5 separate regions of the Homo sapiens genome follow, and all the other regions are linked to region 1. Evidence: fine-mapped expression QTL. A gene starts in region 1. Each other region holds a variant in brackets. All regions are shown on one strand. Distances are from middle to middle.

Region 1 (5,000 bases):
CAAGGGATCCTCCCATCTCTGCTTCCCAAAGTGCTGGGATTACAGGCGTGAGCCACTGCGCCCAGCCCCCATATTTAATTTCTTGATATTCATTTTGTGATCATCCATTGTGCATCTTTCTGTATATGTGTTGTACTTCATGATCTTAAAGTTTTTTAAAAAGCAAAAATATACGCAGAACCTTGCAGATTTATTAATATTTCATCCATCCACTGTTTTTCCTTCCCATCCTTAATCACTGCACGTGAGAGCTATGATACTTCTGCAGGAGGCAGGCACTGGTAATCAGAGTGTTGCTGGGCAAAAAGCTGTAGGCTTTACTTTCATTTTTTATTAAAATTACTTTTACACAGCATGCTTCTTTACTTCTGGAATCTGTTTTCATGTCCCGTCTCTCAGGGGCCTTTCTTGTTTGCGTGACTGGCTTAAACTTACCAAAGGGCAATGCTATGCTGGAAGGCCAGCCTCTGCCCATCAACCAAGAAATGCACAAATCAGTGTTCAAAGTTGGACTGACCAGACGTGTAGGGGTCAGAATTCAATGGCGTGAAGCTACAAAGAAAAAACTTGTACTTCAGGGCCAACAACTTAGATACAGACAGTGTTTGGAAACCATAAAGCCAAATACTTCAATCTGCTGCCTGCTTTCTAAAGTTATCAAAGGTTTACACAATTGCCTTGAGTGGCTCCATCTAATTCCCTCCCATCTAATTGGGAATTAGCTTCTCCTGCAGACACAGATGGCTGACCCAAGTGAAGGGTAGTAACCAGTATAAACAAAAGCCTGAATCATTTTCCTGCTGTCGTTTAAATGAGGTGCTATTTATTGGCAAAAGTTCTTTCATGCTCAGGGTTTTTTGTGTTGTGTTGCTTTGTTCTGTACGTTCATCTTCTTTTGAAATGAACCCCTCCAGGACAGGCGCAGTGGCTCAGCCTGTAATCCCAGCACTTTGGGAGACCGAGGCGGGCAGATCACTTGAGGTCAGGAGTCCGAGGCCAGCCTGGCCAACATGGTGAAACCCCATCTTTACTAAAAATACAAAAATTAGCCGGTGTGGTGGCGGGCGCCTGTAATCCCAGCTACTCGGGAGGCTGAGGCAGGAGAATCGCTTGAACCTGGGAGGTGGAGGTTGCAGTGAGCCGAGATCGGGTCACTGCACTCCAGCCTGGGCGACAGAGCGAGACTCCGTCTCAAAAAAAAAAAAAGAAATGAACCCCTCCCAATTATAAATAGAGAAAAAAAAAATCCCTCCAAGTTTGGGTGCCTGTCTCTATAAAGTTTGGGAGTAAACTTTACAGGCTGATAGAACTCTTATCTGCCACCTACCCCTCTTGATAAGTGCCAGATTTCTTCAATTTGATAATTGAAACGGTATCTTTTTTCACACAGGATACTGGGGATAATGATTAGGCTCCTGAGCTGTGGAGACAAGGTTGCTTGAAAGAAACCCAGCTTCACCACTGAGACTGTGTGGTTCTGTGCCTCAGTTTCCTCAATAGTAACTGGGAATAAAAACTACCTAATTCAAAGGGCTGTTGGGACACTGGATGCTGCATAAGGTGATTAAAGCACAGCGCCTGGCACACATTAAACCCCCAATGGTTATCGTCACTATTATTTGTTACCTTTGAGGGTCCTGCCACCTATAAGGACTCTCTCTATATATTTCTAAATTAGGAAAAACATTCAGATGCAGCTGGAGAGATGGGAGAAGCAGCCTATAAAGTTTGGTCCAAGTTGCCACCAACCCAGGGCAGCAGCATGGGGCCTCCAGGAGAGTCTGCGGAGGTGGCCACGCCACGACCCTGCCTGGACCCCAGACTCCAGCCGGGAGCTGTGACCTCGGACGCCCTTCCTACTCACGTTGCGGTTGAAGCTGTTGCCCGGCAGCAGAGGCAGGGCCATGGCGCTCAGTGTCCGAAAATCCAGGGTCCCAGAAGAGAGGGCCCGGCAGGCAGCGGCGCCTCCCGGCCGTGTTGTTTGGCCCCCACGTTGCCTGGAGACGGGAAGCGGCGTCACGGAGGGAGGAGGGGCGGGGGGTTGGCGAGAAGGATCGTGGGGGGCGGGGGACACCTCCGCGGCGCGTACCTCCTCCCCAGCCCCAGTTCCCCTCCACCCGCTTCATCCCCGCACACACTCAGCCAGGTCCTGGTCTCCTGAGGAGTCTTCTCTCTGCACACGCAGTGTGCACACACAAAGATTGACTGTTCCCTGCCCCCGCCGCTTTCTGGTTTAACCCCCTTATAGAACTCAAAGCCTTTCTTGTACTTTCTTGCTTTTCCAATTCTTGTCGCCAACAGTTTTTTGCTATGTGGTTCAAACACACAGCAAAGTACAGAAAGTAATATGACGCCCGTGTGCTCACTGAGATGTTACACAAGTCGATATTTTCCTATGTTGCATAGACATCAGCTTTTATTTTGTAATTAAAACGTTCAAGATGAATCTAAAGCCACATATACCCTGACGAAAACGCGTTGTAATGGTAACCACCGCCTTCAGTTTTTCTTCTGGATATTTTTATATTTGTTGTTTGTTTGTTTGTTTGTTGTTTTAAGACAAGGTCTCACTATGTTGCCCAGGCCGATCTCGAACTCCTGGGCTCAAGCAGCCCTCCCGCCTCTGCCTCCCAAAGTGCTGGGATTACAGGTATGAGCCACCGTGTCCGGCCCATTTTTGTATTTGAACTAAACGTTTGTAAGGCCCAATCAGGGGTGGCCGGGGCGGAGTCAGGTGTCACAAATCGCAACCCCTGTCACTCCATCGTTCACCCCAAGATAGCCGGGCCAGGAACCTCCTCTCCCGACACCTACGTCTAATCCCTCCCTGAAGCCCTAAAGGTTGGACTCGATGCTCTCTCTCAGTCACCACCTCGTCTATTTCAGCTGCGATCCCATTGTTTCTTGCCTGGTTTTCTTCTTTAAAAAGAAAAACAAACACACACAAAAAACTAACTGATCTTGCCTCCAGAGCCGTCGTTTTTATAATTCATGGTGCAGCTGTTACTCTTCTGCTTCAATAATCTAGCCTTCCCGCCGCCTTCAGAAGGTGGTGAAACTCCTTATAGCCTGGTCTGAGGAGCTTTTGTCAGAGGGCACCTACCAATGCCCTCCATCCCTTTCTTTGCCCCCTCCTCCATCTACTCCAGCTCTGAGAAACCACTGGCAGTTTCTAAATCAGGCTCTGCGGTTTCTCCTCTTGGGGCTTTTGCAAATAACACTATCGTCTAGAAACACCCTTCCTTCCTATCTTTCACATAAGTAACCCCTTCTTGTCTTTCAGGACTTGAGGCCAGCGTGGGAGTGGGGCATAGAAGGTATTGCCATTTCTTCAATATATTCTTTCACCTTCTTCCTGCCGCCTCCATCTGTATTTGGTGTCTATTCTGATCGTGGCTTTCATCCTACTACATTGTAATTACCTGTTTACTTGACATTTCTTTAAATGCCCCCAAATACCTCCAGGGCAGGGACTGTATCTCCTTTTTTATTCATCAACAATATCCATTATTGCTTCTGTGTTTATAAATTTTACACTCTAAATTTCTGCTACTTGCTTTTTTTGCCTGATTCTGTTATTGAGGCCAGGCGCGGTGGCTCATGCCTGTAATCCCAGCACTTTGGGAGGCCGAGGCAGGCGGATCAAGAGGTCAGGAGGTCGAGACCAGCCTGGCCAACATAGTGAAACCCCGTTTCTACTAAAAATATTAGTAGAATATTAATATGCTACTGGGAGGCTGAGGCAGGAGAATCGTTTGAACCGGGGAGGCTGAGGTTGCAGTGAGCTGAGATTGCTCCACTGCACTCCAGCCTGGGCAACAGAGCAAGACTCTGTCTTGAAAATAATAATAATAAAATTCTGTTATTGAGATTTCTACACATTGACACATGTAGTGTTCATTAATTTTAAACGCATTGTATGATTATACCACAAATTGTTTAACTATCTGCTCTCATCTGTTGATGACAATTAGATTGTTTCCAATTTTCCACTAGTTACCAACAATGCTGCAGTGAGCGACTCTGCCTGTTCCTTTGGCAATGATCTAGGGCACATACTGAAAGATGGAATTACGTACATATCTGAGTGCATGGCTTCATCTTTACTAGATTTTGCTAGATGATCTACAGACAGATAAACCAATTAAGAAAGTCCCCTTCCCCGTTCATCCTTTCAACAATAGGTATTACCAAATTATATAATTTTGGATAATCATCTGAATAAGTGTGAATGGTATACTATTGTTATTTTAATTTGTTTCTCCCTAATTCTCCCTAAGCAGTTGGTCATGTTTTCCCATGGTTGTTACTTTCTCCTGTGACTCAGCTATTCATATCCTTTGCAGATTTTTCTCTTCGGTCATTTGTAGTTTTTTTTTTTTAGATAGATAGATAGATATAGAGATATTCTGGATACTAATCCGAGGCATAGCAAATATTTTCTCATTGTCGTTTGTCTTTTAACTCCACTTATATAGAGTTCTTTATTGTACATAAATTTGTTACTTTACTCAAATATATCATTCTTTCAGTTATGGTTGGTGGGTTTTTTGATTTATTCTACTTTTTATTTTTTGAGATGGAATCTCACTCTCTCACCTAGACTGGAGTACAATGATGTGATCTAGGCTCACTGCAACCTCCGCCTCCTGGATTCAAGTGATTCTCCTGCCTCAGCCTCCTGAGTAGCTGGGATTACAGGCATGCACCACCACACCTGGCTAATTTTTGTATTTTTAGTAGAGACGGGGTTTCACCTTGTTGGCCAGGCTGGTCTCGAACTCCTGGCCTCAAGTGATCCACCCACCTTGGCCTCCCAAAGTGCTGGGATTGCAGGCATGAGCCACTGCACCTGGCCTGTTTGGTGTTTTGTATGTGAATTCAAAAATCTTATACTACTCCAAAAGAACAGTTATTCTCCTACATGTTCTTACAAACATTTTTAAAATTCCCTGTTGCTTTTTAAATTGAAATAATTTCAAGCTAGTAAAAAGTTGCAA
Region 2 (6,568 bases), 25 kb after region 1:
CATGTCCAGAAGGTTTGATGAGAGATGTCTCCTAGCTCTTTAAAGAACAGGTTCTCTCTTGTTATACTGTTAAAGAACTTACAAATCTATCATTTCCAACTCTCTGTGATGCCAACTAGCAAAATCCTAACATGAGTACCAGACAAAAAGAGAAAAAATGGAAGGAAGGGAAGGAGTGGAAAAGGGAAAGAGAAAAGTTAACGAAGAAAAGAGTAAGAAAAAAGCTACAAGTCAATCTCACTTATAACATAGATGCTAAAATCTTAAATAAAATATTAGAAAATTGAACCTGGGTCAGGTGCAGTGGCTCATGCCTGTAATCCCAGAACTTAGGGAAGCCAAGGTAGGCGGATCACTTGAGGTTAGGAGTTCAAGACCAGCCTGGCCAACACTGTGAAACCCTGTCTCTACTAAAAATACAAAAATTAGCTGGGCATGGCGGTGTGCAACTGTAGTCCCAGCTACTCGGGAGGCTGAGGCAGGAGAATCGCTTGAACCTGGGAGGTGGAGGCTGCAGTGAGCTGAGATCACATCACTGCACTCCAGCCTGGGTAACAGAGGGAGACTCTGTCTCAAAAATAAAATAAAATAACTGAACCTGGCAACATACTGGATGAATAATACCTCATAACAAGGAATAGAAAAGAAAATCCCCACAAGAGTATTTTAGGCTTTAGAAGAATTTAATAAAGGAAGAACTCAAGGCAAGGTGGTAAAGCAACAAAATAAGATAGACGTGGGGCTAAAGAAAAACTATGTACATGCGATGTATTTAATAAATGTACAGAACAAGAACTATGCTTTCATTTCTGGCAATATTATACAATAGCTATCCTTTTAAACACTAGGAGGCATGTATAAAGCCTGGATTCAAAAAGCAATAAATTCCTTTTAAATAGATAGCTGAGTTTGATGAAAGTAAGGAAACTCGTAGGATCCAAAAATGTAGAGGATACTGAGAATCAGAGTAGTGAGCAGGCAATGATGGTGTCAGCTGCTCTACCCCAGGTTAGTTTCTCAACCTCAGTAACTAGGACACTACTAAAGTCTATAGGCTGCAGGAGCAAGAAAGACGCCCGGGGCCCAAACAAGGCTGGGATCCTACAAGGGCTACACTCTGAGTGGAATGGCACCCTAAGATGCACTCCCCACACCAGCAATGGCGATACAGCCATGCACTACGTAACAACATTTCAGTCAATGCCAGACTGCATATATGACAGCGGTCCCATAAGATTATAATAAAGCTGAAAAATTATTATTGTCCTAGTGACGCAGTAGCCATCGTGATGCCATAGCACAATGCATTACTCACATGCCTGTGGCGATGCTGCTGTAAACACACCTACTGCGCTGCCACTTGTATAAAAATCCAGCACATACAATTATGTACCGTACCTAAAACTTGATAATGATAATAAATGACTATGTTACTGGTTTGCGGATTTACTATACTATAAAATGATTTTATTGTTATGTTAGAGTGTACTCTTTCTACTTATTGAAAAAAAAAAGTTAGCTGTAAAACAGCCTCAGGCAAGTGATTGAGGAGGTATCCAGAAGAAGGTATTGTTATCACAAGAGTCGACAGCTCCATGCGTGTTATTGACCCTGAAGATCTTCCAGTGGGACAAGAATTGGAGGTGGAAGACAGTGACATGGATGAGCCTGACCCTGTGTAGGCCTAGGCATTAGCACACATTAGTGTGTGTGCCTATGTCTCCATTTTTAACAAAAAAGTATAAAAAGGAAAAAAATCATTTATAAAAATTTTAAATAGAGAAAACCTCATAGAACAAGGATGTAAAGAAAGAAAATATTTTTGTATAGCTGTACAATGTGTTTGTGTTCTAAGCTAAGTTTTATTATAAAAGAGTCAAAAAGTTTAAAAAATGAAAAAGTTGGCCAGGCGCGGTGGCTCATGCCTGTAATCCCAGCACTTTGGGAGGCCAAGGCAGGTGGATCACCTAAGGTCAGGAGTTCAAGACCAGCCTGGCCAACATGGTAAAACCCCGTCTCTAGTAAAAATACAAAATTAGCCGGGCATGATGGTGCATGCCTGTAATCCCAGCTACTCAGGAGGCTGAGGCAGGAGAATCACTTGAACCTGGGAGGCAGAGGTTGCAGTGAGCCGAGATCGTGCCATTGTACTCCAGCCTGGGCGACAAGGGTGAAAATCCATCTCAAAAACAAGGAAAATGAAAAAAAAAGTTTATAAAGTAAAAGAGTTATAGTAAGCTAAGGCTAATTGATTATTGAAGAAATAAAAAGAAATTTTTTTTTTTTTTTTGAGACAAGGTCTTGCTCTGTCACCCAAGCGATCTTCCTACCTCAGCCTCCTGAGTAGCTGGGACTACAGGCGCCCATCTCATTTCTATACATTTTGTGGAGACAGGGCTTTCGCCATGTTACCCAGGCTGGTCTCAAACTCCTGGGCTCAAGAAATCCTTTCACCTTGGCCTCTCAGAATGCCGGGATTACAGGCGTGAGCCACTGTGCCCAGCCAAGAAAAAATATTTTTATAAACTTAGTGTGGTCTAAGTGGACAGTGTATATAAAGTGTACAGTTGTGTACAGTAATGTCCTAGGCCTTCACATTCACTCACCACTCGCTCACTCACCAGGAGCAACTTCTGGCCCTGCAAGCTCCGTTCACGGTAAGTGTCCTTTACAAGTGTATCTTTTTTTATCTTTTATACCATATTTTTACTATGTATTTTCTATGTTTAGAAATACAAATACTTACCATTGTGTGACAGTTGTCTACAGTATTCAGTAGAGTCACATGCTGCACAGGTTTGTAGCCTAGGAGCAATAAGCTATACAATATAGCCTAGGTGTGTAGTAGGCGATACCATCTAGGTTTGTGTTAGGACACTCTATGATGTCCGCACCCTATCACCCTAATGATGCATTTCTCACAACCTATCCCTGTTGTTAAGCAACACATGACTGTATAAAGATGCTTAATTGACTTGGACTGGCTTAAGTTGGGAAATAAATCTCCCATTACCCATAGGCCTGCCCTCGTGCAGGTCAAGGTTAGAATATTTATTTTCACCTGCTGCAACCTCTCTGACAAAGGTTACAAATGAACCCCTGATTGTCAAACCCAATGGACATTTTACTGTCTTTTTTTTTTAAGACAGTGTCTCACTCTGTCACCCAGGCTGGAGTACAGTGTCACGATATTGGCTCACTGCAACCTCCACCTCCCAGGTTCAAGCGATCCTCCTGCCTCAGCCTCCCAAGTAGCTGGGATTACAGGTGCATGCCACCACTCCTGGCTAAATTTTGTATTTTTAGTAGAGACAGTGTTTCACCTTGTAGGCCAGGCTGTTCTTGAACTCCTGACCTCAAGCGGTCCACCTGCCT[A/G]GGCCTCCCAAAATGCTGGGATTACAGGCATGAGCCACTGTGCCTGGCCCAGACATTTACTGTCTTTACCTTCTAGATTGTCCTGAAGCAGTTGACACTGGGGTCCACTAGTTCCTCCTAGAAAGTCCCTAGTGCCCCAGCTTCAATAGCATTGCACTCTCTGGGGCCTCTTTTCATGACCCCTGAATGTTATTTCTGTGTCTCCTTCACGCTCCTCTCTCAATCTCCCTGATTCTCATCCTCAGTCTATAACTTCTTAACATGCTCTCTGATTGATACGACTTGACCTCATGCACTTAACCATAAGTGCTTCCTAATCTATGCCCTAGCCCAGAAATGTCCCCTAAGCTTTAGAATCAATAGGGCTCAAAACATGCTACCCCAAAGTATGGCACCTTGGCATATTGAATATTTTAAGCTGAAAGAATTTGAGAAACAGCAGGTACAGAAAGGACTCTCTGACCTTCCCCTGAAGCAGGTCTGAAGACCCTCATGTGAGAGGTGCCCTCCCTAGACCTAGAAGAAAGAGGCATCCTTATCTCCGAAGATGGGACACCAAGAAGAATCCAAATGAACAGGCCTTGCTAAATTTCCCCCGGTTAACTATCCTTAGCTTATACCGCTTTATCTTATCACACTTTTTCATGACTCTTCACTCTTTATCACACCAGTATAAAGATGCTCAGGTTTAATGATTTCTTTGCTCTTCATTTCCTTCTGAAGACTCTCATGTCATATAAAACTTATATTTAGTTAATATGTATGCTTTTCTCTTGTTAATCTGTCTTTTGTCAACCTAATTTATTGAGCCCCAAACAGAGAACCTAGGAGGGTAGAAGAAAAAAAATATTTTTTCCTCCCCTACAGAATACCCCATCCAAATTCCTGCTGCATGGGCCCGCTTGGGTGGTCCATTGGCCCCTGTAATCCAAAAAGTCCAAAACAGTGCTCATTACACTTTCCCCTGAAATTTATCTCCTGTCTTTCATCTCAGCAAAAGACACACAACCAGAAACCTGAGGATGAACCTATGGCTCTCCTCTCACCCTCCACAGCAATCAAACACCAAGCCCTGGTAATTCCACCCACTAAAATATGCTTCAAACCCACCACTCATTTCTCTACTCCTGCTTTCATTGCTTTAATTCAATCTAAGAATCGTAGCAAAAGACCTCCCAAGCGGTCTCAGCTTCTAGTCTTGCCTGCCTCGCATCCATACCTGGTACCACCTGAATGATTTACCTAAATTGCAAATCTGACCACGTCACTTTCTTTTTCACAACCCTTCCATGGTGCCTCATTTCCTGCTAAGCTCCCTAGCATGGCATGGCTGGCTTGGAGTAGCGAAGAAGCCCTTCTTGAGCTGGCCTTTGGACACCTCTCTAGTATCTTTCCATACTGACTATACCCAGCACTGTACCTATACTGACTGTATCTATCCACAAAATGTATAGAAATGAACTGGGCGCCTGTAGTCCCAGCTACTCAGGAGGCTGTGGTGAGAAGATCGCTTGGGTGGCAGAGCAAGACCTTGTCTCAAAAAGCACGTTATTCACCAGTAATCCTAGCGAGGCTTGCAGTGAGCCATATAAACCACGTCGTTTCTTATCTCTAACCCTTCGCTCATGCTGGAACCTCTGCCTTTCCTGCCCCCAGCCTCCTGGTCAATTACTATTTGTCCTCCTTGTCATGCCAGGGCTCTCTCTTCTAAGAGACCTCCTCCTCTGTTCCCATTGTCCCCTGTGCATACTGCCAGCATACATGTTTTGTCCATGAATATGTTTTTCTCTCCAGCTGAGCTAAAAAGTCCTTGAGGGAATAGACCCCATCCTGTTCAACGTTGCATCTTAGCATATAGTAGAAACTCAATAGGCTTTTGTTGTCTGAATTGAATCTGAAACACAGAGAGTAAAATTTTTTAAATCAAGTAATGACATAATTGATTTTATAAAAATGAGAAATGCTCTTTATTTTTAAAAACTCAAGAAATACATCAAAGTACAAATCCCCCAGAGTCTCATCAGGTGGAATTAGCCAATGTCAACAGATCCAATGATGGATATAGAGAATATAACACATCCAGACACCCCGAAGTAATTTCATAAGAATACAGTTGGACTAGACATGCTATGTCTAACAAAACATATGAAATTTAATAATAGTTTAATTTAACTTGAGAAAAAAACCTGAAGTGAATCTGCAGGAATTTTCTGAACCATCCATGAAGTGTTCCTTCACCACAAGCAATATTAGCAAGTTTTAAAAGTGATTCAAACTCCCAGGCAAATGATCTGCACTTGGCAGAGTAGTTAACAACTTCAATTATTGTGTAACTTTGGGATTGGCTAGGGAGTTCCCAGGAGGATGGAAAAGTTTTACCTAGAGACAAAATGTATTGAGTCAAGCAATAGGGAGTTCAAAAACAATTATTATTAAGAGTCTCACTGTTTTTTTAACTTCACGAAATTGGTTTTCATTACTTTCACTCTTGGTTCAATAAAAAGGCTTTTAAATTGGATGTTTTTTTAGAATTTAATAAGCTCCTTTAAAGTGATGCAAATATTTCTTAAATCCTGAAATAAGCTTTCCACTGCATTCAGATGTGCCCAACTGAAAAGTTAATTCCAATCAATGGCATTTAACAGATGTACCTAATTGAAGGATTACTTAGTGGGCACTTTACAGCATGCAATCTAAGAGAACCACCACCCCCGCTTTTCAGGAACTTACAATCTGGTAGAAATGTGTTCATTCCTCCCTTAAATATTTTTCACAAAAGATGACAGTGTGCCTGGTATTATGCAATGCGTGATGGTTGTGATGTCTATGTCTTACCTAAAGTAAGTGGAGGGTTAAGAGGTTACTTTGAATTGATACAGTCATGGAACTCAAACAACTTATCTGTTAAGCCTCCATCATTATGCCTTCCTCCTTTATCCCCTTCAGAAGAGTTAGCTGATCTGCTTGCTCTCTTCCCTTGCCACCATGTGCATGTGTGGATTATAGCATGCTCTATATTACCCATCTCTCTTCCCTGTGGGACTATGGATATCTGGAGGGCAAGGCTAAGCCTTGGACATGTTTGCACTGATAACCTAGAGCAGTGTCTGACATTAAATATTTGATGAAAGAAAGAAAAGAAAAGAAAGAAAGAAAGAGAAAAGAAAAGAAAACAAGAAAGAAGGAAAGGAAA
Region 3 (6,568 bases), 89 kb before region 1:
GGAAGAAATATATTCACTGTTTTATTTCAGCTCAAAAAGCTTTAGGTATCAAGGATAAGAATGCCCCGGAGAAACAGGAGCACAGCAAATGGAGAAGGTCTTAAGGTCTGCAGAGCCTCTGCCTCGGCTGTCCTCTGTCCCAGGAACCACTAGTTAGTTCCATAGTCTTCTTGATGCAACTCTTCCCTCTATTTGCACTTTCGCAGCCCTGTCGTGGAGTTAAACTGCCCCCATTTCATCTGATGTAACCAAATAGGACTGTTATATAAGGAAGTGCACACTGACAAGGGAGATGTTATCCCAAATCAGGTTATACAATCTTTTTGTAAATTTTTGAAATTTCTATCTGTCGAGGGCAGTCTAGGTGCAGTCTTAACCCAAGACAGTGGGGAGACATGATGGCTTTCCAAAGACTCTTCAGTCTTATCTCTGATATTTAAATGAAATTATGGGACCACTATTTCAATTGATTGAAAAATGTTTCTTTGGCATTATGAGGCCTCTAAGAAAAGCATTATTGATAATATATGGGATTCTTTTCAGTCTAAGTTAAATTGTTTAATTTTAACTTTACAGTTCAAGACAGCAAACACTGCAGAAGTAAATGTATGAAAGTCAATATAGAAGCCTCTTATTAAACTCCTAATTTCCCAAAGATTACTATATTTATTGAAGAATTTTCTCCCTGAGGGAATAAATGCTAAAATGATGTTCCTACTCTGAAAGGAAATTATTTAAAACATTTCTTAGCTGTTCTTGGTATTTATTCTCAATTCCTGGCACAAAAGATCTTTTTCTGGGGGTGGCTGGCAAGATGGCCGAATAGGAACAGCTCTGGTCTGCAGCTCCCAGCGAGATCAATGCAAAAGGAGGGTGATTTCTGCATTTCCAACTGAGGTATCCGGCTCATCTCATTGGGACTGCTTAGACAGTAGGTGCAGCCCACGGAGGGCGAGCTGAAGCAGGGTGGGGCATCGCCTCACCCGGGAAGCACAAGGGGTCAGGGAACTCCCTCCCCTAGCCAAGGGAAGCCGTGAGGGACCGTGCTGTGAGGAACAGTGTACTCTGGCCCAGATACTATGCTTTTCCCATGGTCTTTGCAACCCTCAGACCAGGAGATTCCCTCAAGTGCCTACACCACCAGGGCCCTAGGTTTCAAGCACAAAACTGGGCAGCTGTTTGGGCAGACACCAAGCTAGCTGCAGTTTTTTTTTTTTTTCATACCCCAGTGGCGCCTGGAACACCAGTGAGACAGAACTGCTCACTCCCCTGGAAAGGAGGTGGAAGCCAGGGAGCCAAGTGGTCTAGCTCAGTGGATCCCCCCAGCAAGCTAAGACCGATGGCTTGAAATTCTCGCTGCCAGCACAGCAGTCTGAAGTCGATCTGGGACGCTGGAGCTTGGTGGGGGGAGGGGCGTCCCCCATTACTGAGGCTTGTGTAGGCGGTTTTCCCCTCACAGTGTAAACAAAGCTGCCAGGAAGTTGTAACTGGGCGGAGTCCACCACAGCTCAGCAATGATTTTGTAGCCAGACTACCTCTCTAGATTCCTCCTCTCTGGGTAAGGCATCTATGAAAGAAAGGCAGCAGCCCCAGTCACAGGCTTATAGATAAAACTCCCATCTTCCTGGGACACAGAACATGGGGGAAGGGGTGGCTGTGGGCACAGCTTCAGCAGACTTAAACGTTCCTCCTGCCAGCTCTAAAGAGAGCAGCAGACCTCCCAGCACAGTGCTCGAGCTCTGCTAAAGGACAGATTGCCTCCTCAAGTGTGTCCCTGACCCCTGTGCCTCCTGCTAGGAGACACCTCCCAGCAGGGGTTGACACCTCTTAAAGGAGACCTCCGACTGGCATCTGGAGGGTGCCCCTCTGGGACGAAGCTTCCAGAGGAAGGAACAGGTAGCAATCTTTGCTGTTCTGCAGCCTCCACTGGTGATACCAAGGCAAACAAGGTCTGGATTGGACTTCCAGGAAACTCCAGCAGACCTGCAGCAGAGAAGCCTGACTATTAGAAGGAAAACTAACAAACAGAAAGGAATAGCATCAACATCAACAAAAAGGATGTCCAAATGAAAACTCCATCCGAAGGTCAACAACATCAAAGACCAAAGGTAGATAAATCCACAAAGATGAAGAAAAACCAGCACAAAAAGGCTGAAAATTCCAAAAAACCAGAACACCTCTTCTCCTCCGAAGGATCACAACTCCTCGCCAGCAAGAGAACAAAACTGGACGGAGAATGAGTTTGATGAATTGACAGAAGTAGGCTTCAGAAGGTGGGTAATAACTAACTCCTCTGAGCTAAAGGAGCATGTTTTAACCCAATGCAAGGAAGCTAAGAACCTTGAAAAAAGGTTAGAGGAATTGCTAACTAGAATAACCAGTTTAGAGAAGAACATAAATGACCTGATGGAGCTGAAAAACACAGCACGAGAGCTTTGTGAAGCATACACAAGTATCAATAGCTGAATCGATTAAGCAGAAGAAAGGATATCAGAGATGGAAGATCAACTTAATGAAATAAAGCGTGAAGACAAGATTAGAGAAGAAAGAATGAAAAGGAACAAACAAAGCCTCCAAGAAATACGGGACTATGTGAAAAGACCAAACGTACGTTTGATTGGTGTACCTGAAAGTGATAGGGAGAATGGAACCAAGTTGGAAAACACACTTCAGCATATTATCCAGGAGAACTTCCCCAACCTAGCAAGACAGGCCAACATTCAAATTTAGGAAATACAGAGGAAACCACAAAGATACTTCTCAAGAAGAGCAACCCCAAGACACATAATTGTCAGATTCACCAAGGTTGAAATGAAGGAAAAAGTGTCAAGGGCAGCCAGAGAGAAAGGTCGGGTTACCCACAAAGGGAAGCCCATCAGACTAACAGGAGACCTCTCTGCAGAAACCCTACAAGCCACAAGAGAGTGGGGGCCAATATTCAACATCCTTAAAGAAAAGAATTTTCAACCCAGAATTTCATATCCAGCCAAACTAAGCTTCACAAGCAAGGGGGAAATAAAATCCTTTACAGATAAGCAAATGCTGAAAGATTTTGTCATCACCAGGCCTGCCTTACAAGAGCTCCTGAAGGAAGCACTAAATGTGGAAAGGAAAAATCAGTACCAGCTGCTGCAAAAACATACCAAATTATAAAGACCATTGATGCTATGAAGAAACTGCATCAATTAATGGGCAAAATAATCAGCTAGCATCATAATGACAGGATCAAATTCACACATAACAATATTAACCTTAAATGTAAACAGGCTAAATGTCCCAATTAAAAGACACAGACTGGCAAATTGGATAAAGGGTCAAGACACATCAGTGTGCTGTATTCAGGAGACCCATCTCACATGCAAAGACACACATAAGCTCAAAATAAAGGGAGGGAGGAATATTTACCAAAAAAATGGAAAGCAAAAAAAAGCAGGGGTTTCTATCCTAGTCTCTGATAAAACAGACTTTAAACCAACAAAGATCAAAAAAGACAAAGAAGGGCATTTCATAATGGTAAAGAGATCAATGCAACAAGAAGAGCCAACTATACTAAATATATATGCACCCAATACAGGAGCACCCAGATTCATAAAGCAAGTCCTTAGAGACCTACAGAGAGATTTAGACTCCCACACAATAATAATGAAAGACTTTAACACCCCACTGTCAATATTAGACAGATCAACGAGACAGAAAATTAACAAGGATATTCAGGACTTGAACTCAGCTCTGGACCAAGTGGACCTAATAGACATCTACAGAACTCTCCACCCCAAATCAACAGAGTATACATTCTTCTCAGCACCACATCACATTTATTCTAAAGTTGACCACATAATGGGAAGTAAAACACTCCTCAGCAAATGCAAAAGAACGGAAATCATAACAAACAGTCTCTCAGACCACAGAGCAATCAACTTAGA[A/T]CTCAGGATTAAGAAACTCACTCAAAACCGCACAATTGCATGCAAACTGAACAACCTGCTCCTGAATGACTACTGGGTAAATAACAAAATTAAGGCAGAAATAAATAAGTTCTTTGAAACAAATGACAACAAAGACACAACATACCAGAATCTCTGGGACACAACTAAAGCAGTGTTTAGAGGCAAATTTATATATTTAGTGCTTATAAGCACTAAATGCCCACAGGAGAAAGTGAGAAAGATCTAAAATCAACACACTAACATCACAATTAAAAGAACTAGAGAAGCAAGAGCAAATAAATTCAAAAGCTAGCAGAAGGCAAAAAATAACTAAGATCAGAGTGGAACTGAAGGAGATAGAGACACAAAAAACCCTTCAAAAAATCAAAGAATCCAGGAGGTGGTTTTTTGAAAAGATCAACAAAATAGATAGACTGCTAGCCAGACTAATAAAGAAAAAAAGTGAGAAGAATCAAATGGACACAATAAAAAACGATAAACAGGATATCACCACTGATCCCACAGAAATACAAACTACCATCAGAGAATATTATAAACACCTCTATGCAGAAAATCTAGAAGAAATAGATAAATTCCTGGACACATACACCCTCCCAAGACTAACCCAGGAAGAAGTCAAATCCCTGAATAGACCAACCAATAACAAGTTCTGAAATTGAGGCAGTAATTAATAGCCTACCAACCAAAAACAGCCCAGGACCAGATGGATTCACAGCCAAATTCTACCAGAGGTACAAAGAGGAGCTGGTACCATTCCTTCTGAAACTATTCCAAACAATAGAAAAAGAGGCACTCCTCCCTAACTCATTTTATGAGGCCAGCATCATCCTGATACCAAAACCTGGCAGAGACACAACAACAACAACAACACAAAAAGGAAATTTCAGGCCAATATCCCTGATGAAGATTGATGCGAAAATCCTCAATAAAATACTGGCAAACCAAATCCAGCAGCACATGAAAAAGCTTATCCACCAAGATCAAGTCAGCTTCCTCCCTGGGATGCAAGGCTGGTTCAACATATGCAAATCAATAAATGTAACCCATCATATAAACAGAACCAATGACAAAAACCACATGATTATCTCAATAGATGCAGAAAAGGCCTTCAATAAAATTCAACACCCCTTCATGCTAAAAACTCTCCATAAACTAGGTATTGATGGAACGTATCTCAAAATAATAAGAGCTATTTATGACAAACCCACAGCCAATATCATACTGAATGGGCAAAAGCTGGAAGCATTCCCTTTGAAAACTGGCACAAGACAAGGATGCCCTCTCTCACCACTCCTATTCAACATAGTATTGGAAGTTCTGGCCAGGGCAAGAGAAAGAAATAAAGGGTATCCAAATAGGAAGAGAGGAAGTCAAATTGTCTCTGTTTGCAGATGACATGATTGTATATTTAGAAAACCCCATCATCTCAGCCCAAAATCTCCTTAAGCTGATAAGCAACTTCAGCAAAGTCTCAGGGTACAAAATCGATGTGCAAAAATCACAAGCATTCCTGTACACCAATAATAGACAGACAGCCAAATCATGAGTGAACTCCCATTCACAATTGCTACAAAGAGAATAAAATACCTAGGAATACAACTTATAAGGGATGTGAAGGATCTCTTCAAGAACTACAAACCACTGCTCAAGGAAATAAGGGAGGACACAAACAAATGGAAAAACATTCCATGCCCATAGATAGAAGAATCAATATCATAAAAATGGCCATACTGCCCAAGGTAATTTATAGATTCAATGCCATCTCCATCAAGCTACCACTGACTTTCTTCACAGAATTAGAAAAAAACTACTTTACATTTTATATAGAACCAAAAAAGAGCTCGTATAGCCAAGACAATCCTAAGCAAAAAGAATAAAGCTGGAGGCATCACACTACCTGACTTCAAACTATACTACAAGTTTACAGTAACCAAAACAGCATGGTACTGGTACCAAAACAGAGATATAGACCAATGGAACAGAACAGAGTCCTCAAAAATAACACCACACATCTACAACCAACTGATCTTTGACAAACCTGACAAAAACAAGCAATGAGGAAAGGATTCCTTATTTAATAAATGGTGTTGGGAAAACTGGCTAGCCATATGCAGAAAACTGAAACTGGACCCCTTCCTTACACCTTATACAAAAATTAATTCAAGATGGATTAAAGACTTAAACATAAGACCTAAAATCATAAAAACTCTAAAGAAAACCTAGGCAATACCATTCAGGACATAGGCATGGGCAAAGACTTCATGACTAAAATACCAAAAGCAATGGCAACAAAAGCCAAAATTGACAAATGGGATCTAATTAAATTAACAAGCTTCTGCACAGCAAAAGAAACTATCATTAGAGTGAACAGGCAACCTACAGAATGGAAGAAAATTTTTGCAATCTATCCAACTGACAAAGGGCTAATATCCAGAATCTACAAGGAACTTAAACAAATTTACAAAAAAAAAAAAAATCAAAAAGTGGACAAAGGATATGAACAGACACTTCTCAAAACAAGACATTTATGCAGCCAAGAAACATATGAAAAAAAGTTCATCATCACTGGTCATTAGAGAAATGCAAATCAAAACCACAATAAGATACCATCTCACGCCAGTTAG
Region 4 (6,568 bases), 200 kb before region 1:
AAGGCAGAATTTTTGATATTCTCCCTTCACTTGATTTTTCTCTCATGTATCCCAGCACAATGAAAGGCAACACCATCTATCCAGCTGTGAAAATGACCCAGTCATAATTTTGATTTCTTCTCCCTCATCTCCAACATCCCAAATGCATCGTGAATCCCTCCACTTCTCACCAACATTACATTAATCCAAACTACCCATCACTTCTCTGGCAACAGTCTCCTAATCAGTCTTCTTGCCGCCAAACACACTCTTAGAGTTCACACACACAAAGCAGCCAGAGATTTTTAAATACAGACATGATCTTTCCATTCCCCAGATTAAAATATTTCAGAAACTTCTCATTCCCTTGGGATGAAGTGCAAACTCTTCAACATGAGTCACACACAAGGTGGTCCCTATTTTTGTCCCGACTCCCCTCTAAAATGGTCATCTTTTGCCACTTCCCTTCTCACTCTCCTAGCTCCAGTCATAGTTAAAACTGGGGGTATTCGCAGGCGCCTGAAATGGCCGTTCAGCTCCTGTTCTTTATTCAACGGGTGGCCTCACAGCAATAATGACCAGTGGTAGCACAGGAGAAAAAAGCAGGCAAAAGTAATGTTATCAAGTTCCTATTTCAGTCAGAGGTTCTTGTTGTATAGGCAAAGTAGGAAAAAAGAAACACAAAGATGACTTTGGTGGAAGTATTTCTAAAGGAGAATGCATTTTTATGTTTTCACCAAGCTATCAGCTCCTCTGGATTTTAATATTATAGTGGGGTCATAACAAGCTTTCCTCTATTGTTGGCTTTACACAGATGCAAAGTGGTGCTCAGGAAGCTAGGAGACTGATGAATAGTGGGTTTGATGTATTTGAATCATTCAGCACTTTGAGTTAAATGTGCATATTCTGTTCAAAATAGACAATGGGGAGGGGCAGTCCCCCCTTTCCCTCTCTAACTTGCATAACATCAGGCCTCACTGCTTTAACTAATGAGTATTTAGAAGTAAAGGCTCCTACTGATTCCAGCGAGTCATTAATTCTCTGCTTGCAGAGCCACTGTGGAGTTTTTCATCGGCCACATTTTTTTAGCTTTTACCAAGTTGCTTCTGAGCAGCAGTGCTGACCCCGGGCTCCTGTGTGTACCACACACCAGACACATAATGGGCTTGAAAGTCCCCTTGCAAGGAATTTTACTGGGGACCAGGAACAAATTACAAAGAAGATGCATATTCTAGCCACTCTGTTGACAAAGATGTCTCAGAACTCTTAGTTTTAGGGAACTTAATTGACCTTGAATGAAAATGTATATTTAAACCAATATGTATAACCTGGTAGAATAAGCGGAGGAGGTGAGTTACAAAATTCTCTTAAACTAATTGCACAGTCAGCCCTACCCTTTGTAATAATGAATGTTTGCTCCATTATCGCTCCAGGTTTATTATTTTCTAAACAGCCTCATTGATCTTGCCTCAGTGGGCTTTCCATTTTTACACATTACATTCTCTTGGGAATTGAAAAGCACGGTGTCTCTGAAGATGCTCAGTCAACTTGAAAACACTCATTTTTGAAAAGGTCTTAACCTGCCTTCAACTTGAAGCAATTCAGACTTTGCCCAAACAAACATTAGAGCAGAGACACATCACTCGTGTATATGTTTCTACCATCACTGGGAAGCTGTTTGTCTGAAAGGTCATTTACAGACCGTTTTTTAGGGTATTGAAAATTCAGGGATCTATACTCATAACTAAAATGAATGTACATGTAATTGAGAGCATGGCACTTTATTATAATGGATTCTGCATTATTCAATATCATAAATATTTTGTGGAAGGCCCTATTTCGTTATGACTCCAACTACTAAACTTATAGCAAAATCATAATGTGTGGTGGAAGGGAAAGGAGAAAGAAGAAATAAATAGAAAAGGCTAGGAAGCAACCCCAACTCAAGATAAATTCCAGTTGGAAAGGCAAGAGTTTTGTGTTTTGTATTGATTTGAGATTTCATTTTACTCATCAATAATGCCCTATTTGAAAGAAGGAAGGGCAATTTAAATATTCTAAACTCATGACTGAGGGGTCCATAAAGCCTGGAAGCTCTATGACTCCAAATAATCAAACTTCAAATACTCTAGCGTTTAAAAAAAAAAAAATAACAAGAATAGTATATTTGTCAGTAATTGAACCAAAGGCAATACAGGAAATAAAGTAGGCAAAATGTTTAAACTATTATAATGCTTGAAAGTTACAAATCTCCCCTCTGTTGTCTAAAATTTTAACCATTTTAGTAAACTTAAGCTAAAGTAAACCAACAGACTTACCCACATTACTTTTCAAGTGGTTAGGTAAAAAAGGTAATAAAAGGCAAATAAGTACTGCAAATTAATCCTCTGCTGGCGACATCATACCTCACAACAGTGCCTCAGCAAACCACTTAATGTGAACTTCAACAGCTTTTAATCAGTTTTGTATGAAAAGACATGATTTGATTTGGGTTTTCAAATGGCTTTATCAATCATTCCCACAGTTCCAAGAATACTAAATAACAATTAGTTCTTAGGACAAAAGGTTTGCCTATATTAACCTTCAACTCACCCAGACATCCAAAGGTGGCACTTGCTTTTTCATCAAAATGAGATCATGTTAGCAGCTGAAAATATAAGTATATGGAAAGGTTGTGAAACTTCTTTCAAATTATTACCCTGGAACAATGACAATAGTTGGGATTTCTCTTTTGCAGAGGGAAGAGAAGAGGCAGAAATTCCAGTCCTCCTCCCCCCAAAATTTTAGTCTCGGGATTTATTTGTGCTGAAAGCCAGAGTTATCTACTGCTTGAAACCTAAGCAGAATGCATCAGCATTTCAGGACCACCTGGGACCAAGGGGGGCTGGGAGACTTCCAGATGGATTGTAAGACAATTCACTGATATTTACATAACGAGAATAAATGTTTTTCCTAAGATAGCATTTCCCTTCAGTGTCTTGAGACCACCAGCAAAAGAGGGAGGTACAGAAATTCTATTACATTAATAGTCTTTGTTTTTATGGCTTTGGCATTTATTAACTAGTGGGAGCTGTTTATTGGGTCATAAACTTTACTAATGGGGATATTATCTCTAAATTATAAATCTTGTCCAGTATATGGCTTAGTTATAAAAAGAATGATTATTTAAAGTGTCTGTATGGCTGCAACGTATCATGTTTATCGGCATGAATCCTATAATGGCCATTTCATTGCTAATTGTGGGCTTGAACCAGAAACAACCAGGGCAGTAACACACATCTATGCAATAGAATAAGCAGTTGTCACCCCACAACTCAGGAGCATTGTCATTGGTTTGCTTCCTTTCTTTTTCTCCCCCCACTTCTCAAATGAACTACATTATGAGCCTCTACAAGGGCTAAATTATCTACGTATTTAAACTCTTGAAGGAAAGACAACTGACTGAAGAGTTGAATAGGTAAGTGACGAATGTGTCAGCTTGAAAAGTTCCAGGAAAGTGTCATCCTTCTAAAAGCCTGCTCTCTGGGGAATGAAAAATCTTAAAGTGACAAAATGGCTTGGCACTGTCAGTTGCCTTAAAAAAAACCTGGGACAAAAATCAAGTAGTCAAATTTAGGATTTATGGTAGATAGTTTTAGTATATAAATTGAGTATACTAGTTTAGTGTTAAGTCCTGAAAGGGTTGGGAGGAGC[G/A]TCTATTCTAACAATAGCACATGTGGAATTATCCTAGGCTTACATATAGAAATCGTTTATTGATTAACTCCAATTTTTTAAAAATGAAAGGGCCATTGTTGTGGAGAATAAATTGGTACATTTGAGTGCCAAGAAGCCAGCAAGACACTGCTGCAAATGTGGAGTGAAAGAATAATGAGTCCGAAGGGTCCCTTGAGATGTCATCAGCTCTTCTTTTTCTCAGGGTAGTCCCTGAAAGGTAAATGGTGCAGCTCCTTTTTGAGACCTCCATTGTCTCCCAGAACACCAGGCAAATGGATTTATGATACATAGCATCCAACACTGAACAATGGCATAGACTGGGATAGACTTCTTACACTGAATTCCCAGAGGTACATGGCTATGGGTTTTAATCAAATGTACACTACATGACAAGAGTTCTGCTGAAGAAAAATAAAAATAGAACTAGAAAAATGCAGGGGAAAAATGTTGTAGTTTCTGAATATTTAAACCTCTAGGGTGGGGCGCGTGGGATGTGTGTGTAAAACAAACCAAAAAAAAAACAAAAATCTCAAAATCTTCAGCTTTCACATTTGTAAATATTTTAGACATAATAAAGTTTTGGTCAAACTATAATTATACACACATGCATATATTCCTAAGCTAACAAGCTGACTTTAGATAGAAAAAAGGGCATTACAAATATAAATACTGCATATGTTTCCAGTGTGTGTGCACGTGCGTGTGTGTGTGTGTGTGTGTGTGTGTTGGAGGTTCTTTTTCTTCCCATAGCTTTACTAAGTTCAAAAGATAAATATATTTACTCTAGAGAGGTTTAAGAATTATTTTGATGAGGTGGGTTGCTACAAAACTTAATTATGTAAGTAATAAACGTGTCAAAAAGGTTTCAAAAATGTTTAATAGAATCACAACTTATTGCTGTGATATAATTTGATTTTGTATTGTCATGTATAACCTTCAAAAGTCATTTTCTGTTCATATAGTAATGAATCAAATTATGTTGGATCAAAAATTATCAGAAGATTTTTTGGTATTAATAAACCATACATATAATAAAAATATTCAACATGTTTTAAGATGGCATTTTAAATAGTAACAGTACGTCGGCAATGTAACATGATGTTCTGTAAAACTAACATGACAAAATAGGATTAATTGTGGTTTATGGATTTCCATTTAATATAAACCTTGTTTCTTTTTTGTTTTTAATGAAATTATATCTACTAAAGTAAATGTGGCAAAATGAGAGAAGTAAATCATAGAGAATTGACCAAAACTGGCATGGTTATTCCTCCTCTAAGCCAAACGCGTCCTTCAAAAAGGTCCAGTAGTCAATGTATTTCGCAGGAATAGGTGATGGCATACCAAGCCAAACATCTTCACATCTCTAGAAAAAAACCAAAAATGGATATGATTAGAACCACATTTCAAAGTACAGTTTTGAAAATTCAACACCAGTTTATTTGCAAAGTGAAAATTTCTACCATCTACTTTAGGTTCATAAGGACTTTGTGGTCTACTGGATACTTGTTCTTGATTCTTCATTCCCTCCCTGTATAAGAATTATGTGCCCACACTCTTTGTCATATGACTCTGTAGAACCTCCTGTGGAGTAAGAAGGGTATATTTTCCTGTTCCTTTGATATGGGGTTGGCCACATGACTGGCTTTGACCTATGTACTATTAGCAGACATATCATGGACAGAGGCTCTAGCGTGCTGGCATCATTTGGCTTGGCCTTCTGTGCCTCTGCCATCACCATGAAAAGAACATGGCCCAGGATGCTGCTGTTCTTAGAATGACCAAGGTGGATCAGACCAGGCTGGACTTGCGGACTAAGAGCCAAGCTTAGCTGAATCCAGCCATGCTTCACTGACCTACATGCCCATAGACAAGAAAAAGAAATGTGTCTTGTTGTGAACCATTGAAATTTAAGGAGTTGTTATGCAGCATGAATACGCTGATAGATCCTCCTATACTTTCTTAAGAACCCAATTTTTATTTTTATTTTATTATTTTTTTTAAAGACAGGGTATCACTTTGTTGCCCAGGCTGGAGTACACTGGCACAATCTCTGCTCACTGCAACCTCCAACTCCCGGGTTCAAGTGATTCTCATGCCTCAGCCTCCCGAGTAGCTGGGATTACAGGCACATGCCACCATGCCCGGCTAATTTTTGTATTTCTAGGAGACGGGTTTCGCCATATAGGCCGGACTGGTCTGGTCTCAAACTCCCGGCTTCAAGTTATATGTCCACCTCAGCCTCCCAAAGTGCTGGAATTACAGACGTGAACTGCTGCCTAAAGAACCCAATTTTTAAAATACAAACTGGTATCTATACTGGCTGATTGGTTACTGTTTCTTCAGTAAACAATGAAAAGAACACTGGATCACTCACAGTATGATCTTGCAGATAAGCCACTTTATTTGTGTGTGTGTGTGTACACATATACACACACAGATGCACATTTTATATAATACATAAATACGTGTATATACACACACACAAACTTTTTGCATATGCCTCAATGGTTAATTAATATCAACAGGAGGCAAAGTTCATACATATGGTTGCTTATATTTCTACTTTCAAGGTTAAAATATGACTGTCAAGGTTAATTGTTGTATATAAGAGGTTCTATATCTTTACTAGTGTTACATTAGTATCCAGAATCACAAGGTGTCACAGAAACATAGGTAAAGGCTCAATAATTTGATGTGATGGAATTTTGGAAGCAAGCTGAATAAGTGGTGATTCAGTTGCACCTTATGGGATGAAAAACAGTTCAGCAGAGGGTTTAGGGTTGTGAAGGGTATTCCAGGCATAGGGACCAGCGTAAGCAAAGGCCTGGAGATCTAAAATCTATTTTCAAGAAAGGGTGAGTAGCCCAGTGTG
Region 5 (6,568 bases), 32 kb after region 1:
AAATCCAAAAAATTAACTGGGCTTGGTGGTGCACTCCTGCAGTCTCAGCTACTTGGTGGTGTGTGCCTGTAGTCCCAGCTACTTGGTAGTGTGCACCTATAGTCCCAGCTACTGAGGTGGGAGAATCGCTTGAGCCCAGGAGGCGGAGGTTGCAGTGAGCTGAGGTTGCACCACTGCCCTCCAGCCTGGGCAACAGAGTGAGACTCTGTCTCAAAAACAAAAACAAAACAAAACATAAAAAGAATTGACAGGTAGAACAGTTGGGTTGGAGTTGGGGATAGGATAAGGCTGAGAATGTGATGATTTGACACCAAACTGAGAAGTGGCTTATAAGTGAGGCTAAGGAGTGAGGCTATTATTTATCAGCCAGTAGAGATCTACTCTATAGAATGGTAAAGGAAGGTAAAATGAGGCAGGTGGACAGGTTGGGAGATTATTACAAACATATGAGAACAGATGAGAAATAACAAGGGAGATTTGAAGTGAATATGGAAGACAAATTATATACATGAATGTTCAAAACTAAACAACAGATTGGATTTGGAAAATGAAAGAGAAAGACCCGAAGATAACTCAGATTTGGTGTCTGATGAAAGCATGAACAGTAGCATTAATAACAGAGACAGGAAAGTCATAAGGGAAACAAGTGTGAGATCAGTGTTGCCAAGAATTTTTCAATTGCCTGGTCTCACAACTTCAGAGTAAATGGCGGCTTCTGTTTTAAATAAACTGATTTTGAGATCGAGATTCCTTTCAGGAATTCACAAGAAACCAGCCAATCCTCAGGTCTTCCAGACTCAGCATTCTACTACAAATGGTTTCCAGACTGAACCAAAGGGTCCTGCTTCATAGATGCTGCCTAGAAAGAGTGATGGAGTGGTTAAGAGCCTGGACTCTGAAACCAGATTGTCTGAGTTTCAATCCCAGCCTCTATCCTCATGAGTAATGTGGTCTTGGACTGCTTACCTAGCCTCTTTGGGCCTCAGTTTCCTCATCTTTAAATGGAGATATTACCTATACCATAGTCTGAGGATTAAACTAAATAGTAAATGCTTAATAATTGTTAACTATCTTATTTCCTAAGGGAGGGAATAGAAAGAAAAGAGGGCTATGGATAGAATATCATGGAATGAACACATTTAAGGGGTGGGAGGTGGAAGGAAAGCCACAGAAGAAAGTAGAGAAGGGACAGAAAAACTGGAAGGTGGATAATAGAGTGCAGAGTCCTAGAAAGCAAAGAAAGAGAGTCTCTCAAGAAACAGGAAGGCAACAGCTTCAGACACTGCAGAGAGTTGAAGGTGAAAAGGCCACTGTATTTGCTAAGTAGGAGGTCCTTGTTGATCTTTAAGAGACCAGAGCCACTGGCCCATAGTACTTTCTTGTTACCTGGTTTGCCTTAAAGTAGTACAACTGTTAGCCCTTTGCTGCTTCCTCTGTGATCATGTTTGGTCAGTTTCTAAAAAGATGAAATATTGTGTAATGAGATATTGTCTGGCTCCACAGCAACAGCTAGAACAGTAATGCTCAACTTCAGATTTTCAAAATTCCAGGACTTGTGTTTTTATACAGTAATAATAATAATACAAACTCTCAATGATGATGATAATTACTAAAAATCAAAAGTAATATAATGCTCTACAGTTTTCAAAAAATTTTCAAGATCGTTCAGTTATATCTCAGAGTACCACAATTCGTAAAAGATTTGTGTCCCTCAAACACAAATATATTTGATCTATGAATTAAATAGATGCCTAATGATTCATTTAATATTATGCGATGATGGAGTTCAGAACACACTATCCCCAAAATATGGCACCTTGGCATGTTCAATGTTTTAAGCCGAAGGAATTTGAGAAACAGCAGGTACAGAAAGGACTGCTCAGGTTTAACAGTTTCTTTGGGTTTTTATTTCCTTACGAAGGTTCCATGTCACATAAAACTTACATTAAATACATTTGTGTGATTTTTTTCCTGTTAATTTCACTTTGTCAGTTCAGTTTTTAGACCCAGCCAGAGACACTAAGAGGGTGGAAGAAGTTTTTCCTCCCCTATGGTAAACAATCATCTCTGGGTCCCTGCTTTGTGTCACCTACTTAGGTATGCTTTGGGAATTGGTGGATCGTTAGATATAGTCTTGAACCTCAAAGTTCTGGAGAGAGAGAGAGAGAGAGAGAGAAGCCATCTTAATGTAACATGATCAGTATACAGAAGAGGTGGGCACAAAATACAACGTGCAAAGTGATAAAGGAAGGACCCACTTAGCCTGGCGGTGTTTAGAAGGCCTCTCTGAGTTTACAAATATCTTCTCCCATTCTGTAGGTTGTCTGTTTACTCTGCCGATAGTTTCTTTTGCTGTGCAGAAGCTCTTTAGTTTAATTAGGTCCCACTTGTCTATTTTTGTTTTTGTTGCAATCGCTTTTGGGGACTTAGCCAAAAATTATTTGCCAAGGCCAATGTTGAGAAGAGTATTTGCTAGGTTGTCTTATAGGATTTTATTTTCTTTTCCTTTTTTTTATTCTTTTTCTTTTCGAGACAGGGTCTTGTTCAGTTGCCCAGGCTGGAGTGCAGTGGCACGATCTTGGCTCGCTGCAACCTCCACCTCCCAGGTTCAAGTGATCCTTTCAGCCTCCTGAGTAGCTGGGACTACAGGCACAAGCCACCACACCCTACTAATTTTTGTATTTTTTGTAGAGATGGGGTTTTGCCATATTGCCCAGGCTGGTCTTGAACTCCTGGGCTCAAGTGATTCACCTGCCTCAGCTTCCCAAAGTGGTGGGATTACAGGTGTGAGCCACTGTGCCCAGCCAAGGATTTTTATCATCTGAGGTTTTTTATTTAAATATTTATCCATTTTGAGTTAATTTTTGTATATGGTGAAAGGTAGGAGTCCAGCTTCAATCTACATATGGCTATCCAGTTATCCCAGTACCATTTATTGAATAGAGGATCCTTTCCCCATTGCTTGTTTTTGTCAGCCTTGTGAAAGATCAGATGGTTGTAGGTGTGTGGCTTTATTTCTGAGTTTTCTATTCTGTTCCATTGGTCTATGTGTCTGTTTTTGTACCAGTACCAAGCTGTTTGGGTTACTGGGCTTTATATTATGGCTTAAAGTTGGATAGTGTGATGCCTCCTGCTTTGTTCTTTTTACTTAAGATTGCTTTGGCTATTCAGGCTCTTTTTTGGTTCTGTATGAATTTTATCATAG[GT/G]TTTTTTTTTCTAATTCTGTGAAGAATAACGTTGGTAGCTTGATAGGAATAGCATTGAATCTATAAATTTCTTTGGGCAGTATGGCCATATTTATGATATTGATTCTTCCAATCCATGAGCATGGAATGTTTTTTCATTTATTTGTGTCATCTCTGATTACTTTCAGCAGTGTTTTTTAGTTCTTCTTGTAGAGATCTTTTACCTCCTCGGTTAGCTATACTCCTAGGTATTTCATTTTCCAGAATTTATAGGGAACTTAAACAACATGCAAAAAAAAAACACCCAAATAACCCCATTAAAAATGGGTGAAGGACACGGACAGACACTTCTCAAAATAAGACATATCAGCAGGCAACAAACATATGAAAAAAATGCTCAACATCACTAATCATCAGATAAATGCAAATCAAAACCACAATGAGATACTATCGCACACCAATCAGAATGTTTATTATTAAAAAGTCAAAAAACAGCAGATGCTGGCAAGGTTGTGGAGAAAAGGGAATGCGTATACACTGTTGGTGGGAATGCTAATTAGTCCAGCCACTGTGGAAAGCAGTCTGGAGATTTCTCAAAGAACTTAAAACAGAGCTACCATTCGATCCAGCAGTCCCATTACTGGGTATCTACTCAAAGGAAAATAAGTTATTCTACCAAAAAGATACATGTACTCATATGTTCTTTGCTGCACTATTCACAATAGCAAAGACATGGAATCAACCCAAGTGCCCATAAATTGTAGATTGGATAATGAAAATGTAGTATATATACATCATAAAATCCCACACAGCCATAAAAAAGAATGAAATCATGTATTTTGCAGCAACATGGATGCAGTTGGAGACCATACTCCTAAGCGAATTAATGTGCGAACAAAAAACCAAATGTTCTCCCTTATAAGTGGGAGCTAAACCCTGGGTACACATGGACTTAAAGATGAGAACAATAGACACTGGGAACTACCAAAGCGGGGAGGGAGGGGGCAGCAAGGGTTGAAAAACTATCTATTGGGTACTATGCTTACTACCTGGGTGATGGGATCCATACTCCAAGCCTCAGCATCACACACTATTCCCATGTGACAAATCTGCCTATGTACCCTCTGTATCTAAAATAAAAGTTAAATTTTTTTTTACAAAAGAAGACTGCACTGAGGAGGAGACATCTGAAATAAATTTTGAAGGCTGATATGGTTTGGATGTTTGTCCCCTCCACGTCTCATGTTGAAATATGATCCCCAATGTTGGAGGTGGGGCCTAGTGGGAGGTGTTGGGGTCACGTGGCCAGATCCCTCACGAATGGCTTGGTGCCTCCTTGAAGTAATGAATGACTTCTAACTCAGTTAATTCATGCAAGATTGGGCTGTTTAAAAGCGTGTGGCACCTTCCCCTCTCTCTTGCTCTCACCCTTACCATATGACATGCTGGCTTCCCATCGCCTTCCACCATGATTGGAAGCTTGCTGAGGCTGCACCAGAAACAGATGCCAGCACCATGCTTCCTCTATAGCCTGCAGAACCGTGAGCCAAATAAATCTCTTTTCTTTATAAATTACCCAGGCTCAGGTATTCCTTTATACCTACGCAAGAACAGACTAACACAATGGCTGAGTAGAGATTTGCCAGGTGGGAAAGAGAAAAAAAGAAATCTCAGACATTCCTCTTTTTTAGAAAGTCTGGCAGGTGACTTGACAGGGAAACAGAATATTCCCAAAAGGTGGCAAGTGCCTATGGATTTTTTCATCAAGTCAGTTACAATATTCTAATACTTTAAGTTTAGACAGAAATGGCTGGCTTATTTGGGGGGAAATTTTAACTTCTAGCTATATTTTGTTTTGTAGGACTATGTATGTAACAATGAAATTTGTTTTTAAACGCCGGCTCTTCTGTGACTGGATATTTGCAGCACATCCAAGAGGAAAATATGCTAGGAGAGGGTATGAGAGTATTAAATAAGAATAATTTTCAAGTAAGGTTGTAAAAGCATCCAAACTGCTGTTGGAGGAGTGGGGGACCCCAAAGACTATCCTCAGTTTCCATAATTTGCTAGGAGGACTTACAGGACTCAGCATACCGTTATACTCATGGTGCGGATATATCACAGCCAAAAGACCCAAAGCAAAATCAGCAAAAGCAAAAGGCACATGGGGGTGAAGTCTGGAGGAAACCAGGAGCAAGCTTCCAAGAATCTTCACCCAGTGGAGTCACAAGGGATGTACTTGATTTCCCCAGCAATGAGTTCTGAAATGTCTACCAGGGAAGCTTATTAGAAATTCAGCACCCAGGGCTTTTCCTGGGGGGCTGGTCATGGAAGTACCCCTTGCCTGGCAGGTACCCAAATTCCAGACTCCCAGAAGGAAAGCAGATAGATGTTCAGCATAAACCGCATTGCTTGCATGAAGTTTAGGCACAGTGAGCCACTCTTACCAATTCTAGAAATGGTGGGAACCCTCCTGAAATTCAAGTTCTGGGATACCAGCTAAGAGCCAACCTTGTGAGCAAGCCTTTCTAAGGATAAGCAGTTAGGACTCTATGTTAACTCTTTACTGCACTGAGGTAACAGTTTATCTCATGGGTGCTTTTTTTTCTCTCCTCGTGGCTTGTGTCATTATTCCCATCTCTTAAGATCTAAAGCAAAGGCCTTTTAGTAAAATGAATCAACATATATTTGGGCCTTGAGGGTGTGTGTGTGTGTGTGTGTGTGTGAGAGAGAGAGAGAGAGAGAGAGAGAGAAAGAAGGATCGGAAACGGTGTAATCCCAGCACTTTGGGAGGCCAAGGTGGGTGGATCATTTGAGGTCAGGAGTTCGAGACCACCCTCGCCAACATGGTGAAACCCCATCTCTACTAAAAATATAAAGGAAAAAATTAGCCAGGTGTGATGGCGGGTGCCTGTAATCCCAGCTACTTGGGAGGCTGAGGCAGGAGAAGCGACTGATCCTGGGAGGTGAAGGTTGCAGTGAGGTGAGATCACGCCACCACACTCCAGCCTGGGTGACAGAGCAAGACTCCATCTCAAAAAAAAAAAAAAAAAAAAAGGGAGAGAGAGAGTGAGTGAGTGAATACTTAAAATAGTCATCATAATTGAAACAGCCTAAGCATTTTGGGTTGCAGATGTCTGTCTGAAGTCTTTCCTTTATGGCTAATACATTTTGAAGCCCTTACCCAGATGAGTAATTACAAGAAAGTGCAGTGGCCCACTGTTTCTGTTTTAAAATCATTCCCCACCCATTAGAATTTGCTTCAGCTGCTTTTAATATCAATTTTTATATGCAGGTACTTAGTAAAATAACAAAAATAAAAATACACCTCTGGGCAACATTTCTTCTTCACTTCAGTCACTTTTTTTTTTTAAGTCCACACC

The links.
Region 2: its variant is fine-mapped to the expression of EFHC2 in prostate (GTEx, PIP 0.96).
Region 3: its variant is fine-mapped to the expression of EFHC2 in whole blood (TOPMed, PIP 0.98).
Region 4: its variant is fine-mapped to the expression of EFHC2 in whole blood (TOPMed, PIP 0.98).
Region 5: its variant is fine-mapped to the expression of EFHC2 in whole blood (TOPMed, PIP above 0.99).

What each region holds. Positions count from the first base shown.
Region 1 is chrX:44,341,683-44,346,682 of GRCh38, forward strand. EFHC2 (EF-hand domain containing 2) reads right to left here and starts at 1,990. Exons shown (of 15, transcript NM_025184.4): 1 at 1,865-1,990. The coding sequence starts at 1,906.
Region 2 is chrX:44,366,129-44,372,696 of GRCh38, forward strand. No RefSeq gene overlaps it. Among named protein-coding and RNA genes, the nearest start is that of EFHC2, 26 kb to the left of the region's middle. The variant A/G (reference allele first, on the strand shown) is at 3,376.
Region 3 is chrX:44,252,030-44,258,597 of GRCh38, forward strand. The region is part of intron 4 of EFHC2 (EF-hand domain containing 2); the gene reads right to left. Among named protein-coding and RNA genes, the nearest start is that of EFHC2, 88 kb to the right of the region's middle. RefSeq lists enhancers at 583-1,436, 1,437-2,289. The variant A/T (reference allele first, on the strand shown) is at 3,924.
Region 4 is chrX:44,143,838-44,150,405 of GRCh38, forward strand. EFHC2 (EF-hand domain containing 2) reads right to left here. Exons shown (of 15, transcript NM_025184.4): 15 at 4,035-5,059. The coding sequence ends at 4,958. Among named protein-coding and RNA genes, the nearest start is that of NDP, 170 kb to the left of the region's middle. The variant G/A (reference allele first, on the strand shown) is at 3,673.
Region 5 is chrX:44,373,004-44,379,571 of GRCh38, forward strand. No RefSeq gene overlaps it. Among named protein-coding and RNA genes, the nearest start is that of EFHC2, 33 kb to the left of the region's middle. The variant GT/G (reference allele first, on the strand shown) is at 3,206.